2 separate regions of the Homo sapiens genome follow, and region 1 is linked to region 2. A link means that fine-mapping ties the variant in region 2 to the expression of a gene that starts in the linked region. Tissue or cell type: regulatory T cells. Region 2 holds a variant in brackets; the other region holds the start of a gene. All regions are shown on one strand. Distances are from middle to middle.

Evidence for each region. PIP is the estimated chance that this variant, and not a neighbour inherited with it, causes the effect.
Region 1: CRTC2 starts here. The variant in region 2 is the best candidate, but not a certain one, in a credible set for the expression of CRTC2 in regulatory T cells (Bossini-Castillo 2019, PIP 0.65).

Annotation. Positions count from the first base shown.
Region 1 is chr1:153,957,594-153,960,274 of GRCh38, reverse strand. CRTC2 (CREB regulated transcription coactivator 2) reads left to right here and starts at 1,663. Exons shown (of 14, transcript NM_181715.3): 1 at 1,663-1,930. The coding sequence starts at 1,778. SLC39A1 (solute carrier family 39 member 1) reads left to right here. Exons shown (of 4, transcript NM_001271958.2): 4 at 1-1,165. The coding sequence ends at 177. RefSeq lists enhancers at 1,434-1,633, 2,194-2,243, 2,254-2,473, 2,534-2,583 and a silencer at 1,884-2,033.
Region 2 is chr1:153,087,457-153,090,137 of GRCh38, reverse strand. It overlaps a transcript of SPRR2B not described here. Among named protein-coding and RNA genes, the nearest start is that of SPRR2E, 5.7 kb to the left of the region's middle. The variant G/A (reference allele first, on the strand shown) is at 1,379.

The sequences.
Region 1 (2,681 bases), 870 kb before region 2:
CTGCACCAGCTGGCCCAGTCTGTGCTAGAGGGCATGGCAGCTGGCACCTTTCTCTATATCACCTTTCTGGAAATCCTGCCCCAGGAGCTGGCCAGTTCTGAGCAAAGGATCCTCAAGGTCATTCTGCTCCTAGCAGGCTTTGCCCTGCTCACTGGCCTGCTCTTCATCCAAATCTAGGGGGCTTCAAGAGAGGGGCAGGGGAGATTGATGATCAGGTGCCCCTGTTCTCCCTTCCCTCCCCCAGTTGTGGGGAATAGGAAGGAAAGGGGAAGGGAAATACTGAGGACCAAAAAGTTCTCTGGGAGCTAAAGATAGAGCCTTTGGGGCTATCTGACTAATGAGAGGGAAGTGGGCAGACAAGAGGCTGGCCCCAGTCCCAAGGAACAAGAGATGGTCAAGTCGCTAGAGACATATCAGGGGACATTAGGATTGGGGAAGACACTTGACTGCTAGAATCAGAGGTTGGACACTATACATAAGGACAGGCTCACATGGGAGGCTGGAGGTGGGTACCCAGCTGCTGTGGAACGGGTATGGACAGGTCATAAACCTAGAGTCAGTGTCCTGTTGGTCCTAGCCCATTTCAGCACCCTGCCACTTGGAGTGGACCCCTCCTACTCTTCTTAGCGCCTACCCTCATACCTATCTCCCTCCTCCCATCTCCTAGGGGACTGGCGCCAAATGGTCTCTCCCTGCCAATTTTGGTATCTTCTCTGGCCTCTCCAGTCCTGCTTACTCCTCTATTTTTAAAGTGCCAAACAAATCCCCTTCCTCTTTCTCAAAGCACAGTAATGTGGCACTGAGCCCTACCCAGCACCTCAGTGAAGGGGGCCTGCTTGCTCTTTATTTTGGTCCCGGATCCTGGGGTGGGGCAGAAATATTTTCTGGGCTGGGGTAGGAGGAAGGTTGTTGCAGCCATCTACTGCTGCTGTACCCTAGGAATATGGGGACATGGACATGGTGTCCCATGCCCAGATGATAAACACTGAGCTGCCAAAACATTTTTTTAAATACACCCGAGGAGCCCAAGGGGGAAGGGCAATGCCTACCCCCAGCGTTATTTTTGGGGAGGGAGGGCTGTGCATAGGGACATATTCTTTAGAATCTATTTTATTAACTGACCTGTTTTGGGACCTGTTACCCAAATAAAAGATGTTTCTAGACATCTGTACAGTATCTGATTCGTTTGTTTTGGGAAAGGGGTGGGCATGTGGCCAGCCTGAGAGGGCCTGAGTCCCAGATGTTTACAGCTGTTTTAAGATTCTTGGTCTCACTGTTTTCACTCAGGACCCGATAGTCCCCTTCCCTGAAGATGACCTAATTTTTCCTCCTTTGTGTCTTGGTACTTCTTTCCCGGTCTCCACCCCTCGGCTTCCCTTCTCTTCCCTCCCCTCCCTCTTCCTTTCTTCTCTCTTCAATCCCTCTCTCCTTTCCGTTCGTAGTCTCAGGGCTAATTTAGAACTACTCTTCCCAGCTTGCACCTCTCAGGGAGTAGCCGAGAGGGTGGAGCCAAGTCCCCAGTTTCCGGAGTCAGCAGGGCTGCTGGGAAGTGGAGTCCGTTTCCTCCTAGTGCTGCGTGACTGGGGATGTGAAGGAGTCTCGTAAACAAACTACAATTCCCGGCGGCCCCCGCGCGCAACAGGTCAGGGCTAGGCTGGGGCCGGGTTCGCGGTGCTCGCTGAGGCGGCGGTGGCTACGGCTGGAGGAGCCGGGCCGAGGCCGCGGCGGAGGCCGCGGCTGGTACTGGGAGGGTGGCAGGGAGGGACGGGGAAGGAAGATGGCGACGTCGGGGGCGAACGGGCCTGGTTCGGCCACGGCCTCGGCTTCCAATCCGCGCAAATTTAGTGAGAAGATTGCGCTGCAGAAGCAGCGTCAGGCCGAGGAGACGGCGGCCTTCGAGGAGGTGATGATGGACATCGGCTCCACCCGGGTGAGGGGCCGCGCCGGGGAGCCGGAGCAGAGCTGAGCAGTTACGGAGCGGAGACCGGAGAGGCGGGGCGGGGGCGGGCGCCGCAGCGAAGGAGGCGGAACAGAGCAGGGGACGCGGGCGCCGCCGTTTGGGAGGCGCAGGTTGAGGGCCGAGGGGCAGGAAGAAGGATTTTGCCGGGGGAGACCGAAACACCGGAGAGGTTCGGGGTGTAGAGGCGACTGGGGGCCGAGTACGTGAGGTGGGAGTGGGCGGAGAGGGGAGATGAAGTCCGGCGGAGGTAGGAGGTGAGTGGTCCTTGTGCATCCCTGACGGAGTCCCCTCGAGGACGCTACTGAAGCATGCCTGGTATTGGGGTATGGCCTGGGAGGAGGGCTGCTTGTCTGTAACCTGGCTCCTCTGAGTTTGTGATCTCCTCCAAACTGGTCCCTCTGCCTTCTGCGCTTTGGTGCCCCCGGGAAAGGGCCCCTTGAGTGGTTTGAACGAGCGGTGCTGTGTATAGTGGGGCAGGAAGTCCCCTCCTGCGTCCCGTCCTTTTGCTTCCTTTTTCAAATACTTCTTGTGGTTTCCTGACGTGAATGAAGGTGAGGTCCATTGCTTGGTGTTTTGTCCTGGCCTCCTTGGAGGAGAGGTAGGGTTTTGAATCCGACAACTGGGTAACCGTCCGACCATAAGTTGTGTGGAACTCTATGGTTTGCTGAGCTTTCTAGGGAGTTGGCTGCTTTGTGGGTTAGTGTGTAGGGTGCCTTGGAGG
Region 2 (2,681 bases):
AATGTCATTGGTAGTGTGATAGGAGTCACATTGAATCTGTAAATTGGACAATATGGCCTTTTTTCTTTTGTTTTGTTTTGTTTTCTTTTTTTTTTTTGAGATGGAGTCTCACTCTGTTGCCCATGCTGGAGTACAGTGGCCCAATCTTGGCTCACTGCAAGCTCTGCCTCCTGGGTTCACGCCATTCTCCTGCCTCAGCCTCCTGAGTAGCTGGGACTATAGGTGTCCACCACCAGGCCCAGCTAATTTTTTGTATTTTTAGTAGAGATAGGGTTTCACTGTGTTAGCCAGGATGGTCTCAATCTCCTGACGTCGTGATCTGCCTGCCTCGGTCTCCCAAAGTACTGGGATTACAGGTGTGAGCCATTGTGCACAGCCAATATGGCCCTTTTAAGGATATTGATTCTTCCCATTCATGAGTATGGAATGCTTTTCCATTTGTTTGTGTTACCACTGATTTATTTGAGCAGTGTTTTAGAATTCTCCTTGTAGAGATCTTTCACCTCCCTGGTTAGCTATATTCCTAGGTACTTTATTATTTTTGTAGCAATTGTGAATGGGATTGTGTTCCTAATTTGACTCTTGTCTTGGTTGTTGGTGTACGGGAGTACTAGTAATTTTTGTACATTGATTTTGAATCCTGAAGTTTTGCTGAAGTTTTTTATCAGCTGAAAAACCCTTTTGGTCTTTGAACATAGGGTTTTCTAGATATAGTATCATGTCGTGTATAAACAGAAATAGTTTGACTTATCCTCTTCCTATTTCGATGCCCTTTCTTTCCTCACCTTCCATGATTGCTCTGGCCAGGACTTCCCATACTATGTTGAATAGGAGTGGTGAGAGAGGGCATTCTTCTCTTGTGCGTAGGGAAAAGAAAGAGAGATCAGACTGTTACTGTGTCTATATAGAAAGGGAAGACATAAGGATTCCATTTTGAAAAAGACCTGTACTTTGAACAATTGCTTTGCTGAGATGTTGTTAATTTGTAGCTTTGCCCCAGCCACTTTGCCCCAGCCACTTTGCCCCAGCCTGGAGCTCACAAAAACATGTGTTGTATGAAATCAAGGTTTAAGGGATCTTGGGCTGTGCAGGATGTGCCTTGTTAACAAAATGTTTACAAGCAGTATACCTGGTAAAAGTCATTGCCATTCTCTAGTCTCAGTAAACCAGGGGCACAATGCACTGCAGAAAGCTGCAGGGACCTCTGCCCTTGAAAACGGGGTATTGTCCAAGGTTTCTCCCCATGTGATAGTCTGAAATATGGCCTAGTGGGATGAGAAGCATCTGACCGTCCCCCAGCCTGACACCCATAAAGGGTCTGTGCTGAGGCGGATTAGTAAAAGAGGAAAGCCTCTTGCAGTTGAGATAGAGGAAGGCC[G/A]CTGTCTCCTGCCTGCCCCTGGGAACTGAATGTCTCGGTATAAAACCCGATTTTACATTTGTTCAATTCTGAGATCAGAGAAAAACCACCCCATGGTGGGAGATGAGACATGTTTGCAGCAATGCTGCCTTGTTATTCTTTACTCCACTGAGATGTTTGGGTGGAGAGAAACATAAATCTGGCCTACATGCACATCCAGGCATAGTACATTCCCTTGAACTTAATTATGACATAGATTCTTTTGCTCACATGTTTTTTGCTGACCTTCTCCTTATTATCGCCCTGCTCTCCTACTACATTCCTTTTTGCTGAAATAATGAAAATAATAATAAATAAAAACTGAGGGAACTCAGAGACTGGTGCTGGTGCAGGTCCTTGGTGTGCTGAGTGCCGGTCTCCTGGGCTCACTGTTGTTTCCCTATACTTTGTCTCTGTGTCTTATTTCTTTTCTCAGTCTCTTGTCTCTCATTCTGTATGATGTTGGCTGTGGGTCTGTCATAGATGGCTGTTATTATTTTGTGGTCTGTTTCTTTAATACCTAGTTTGAGAGTTTTTAACATGAAAGGGTGTTGAATTTTATGGATAGCCTTTTCTCCATCTATTGAGATAATCTTGTGATTTTTTGTCTTTAGTTCTGTTTACGTAATGAATCACAGTTTTTGGTTTGCCTATGTTGAACCAACCTTGCATCCCAAGGGTAAAGCCAACTTGATTGTGGTAGATAAGCTTTTTGATGTGTTGCTGGATTCAGTTTGCCAGTATTTTTTTGAGGATTTTTGCATTGACATTCATCAAGGATATTGGCCTGAAGTTTTCTTTTTTTGTTGGGTCTGTGTCAGGTTTTGTTATCAGGATGATGCTGGCCTCACAGAATGAGTTAGGGAGGAGTTCCTCCTCAATATTTTGGAATAGTTCCAGCAGAAATGATATAAGCTCTTGTTTGCACATCTGGTAGAATTCAGCTATGAATTTGTTTTGTCCTGGGCTTATTTCGGCTGGTAGGCTATTTATTACTGATTCAATTTTGGAGCTCATTATTGGTCCTTTCACAAATGCAAATTCTTCCTGGCTCAGGGTTTGGAGGGTGTATGTGTCCAAGAATGCATTTGTTTTTTCTATATTTTCTAGCTTATGTACATAGAGATGTTTGTAATATTCTCTGATGTTTATTTGTATTTCTGTGGAGTCAGTGGTAATATCCCCTTTGTTTTTTCTAATTGTGTTTATTTGGATCTTTTTCTTCTTTATTAGTCTAACTAGTAGTCTACTTAGTTCATCATTTTTCTCAAGAACCACCTCCTGG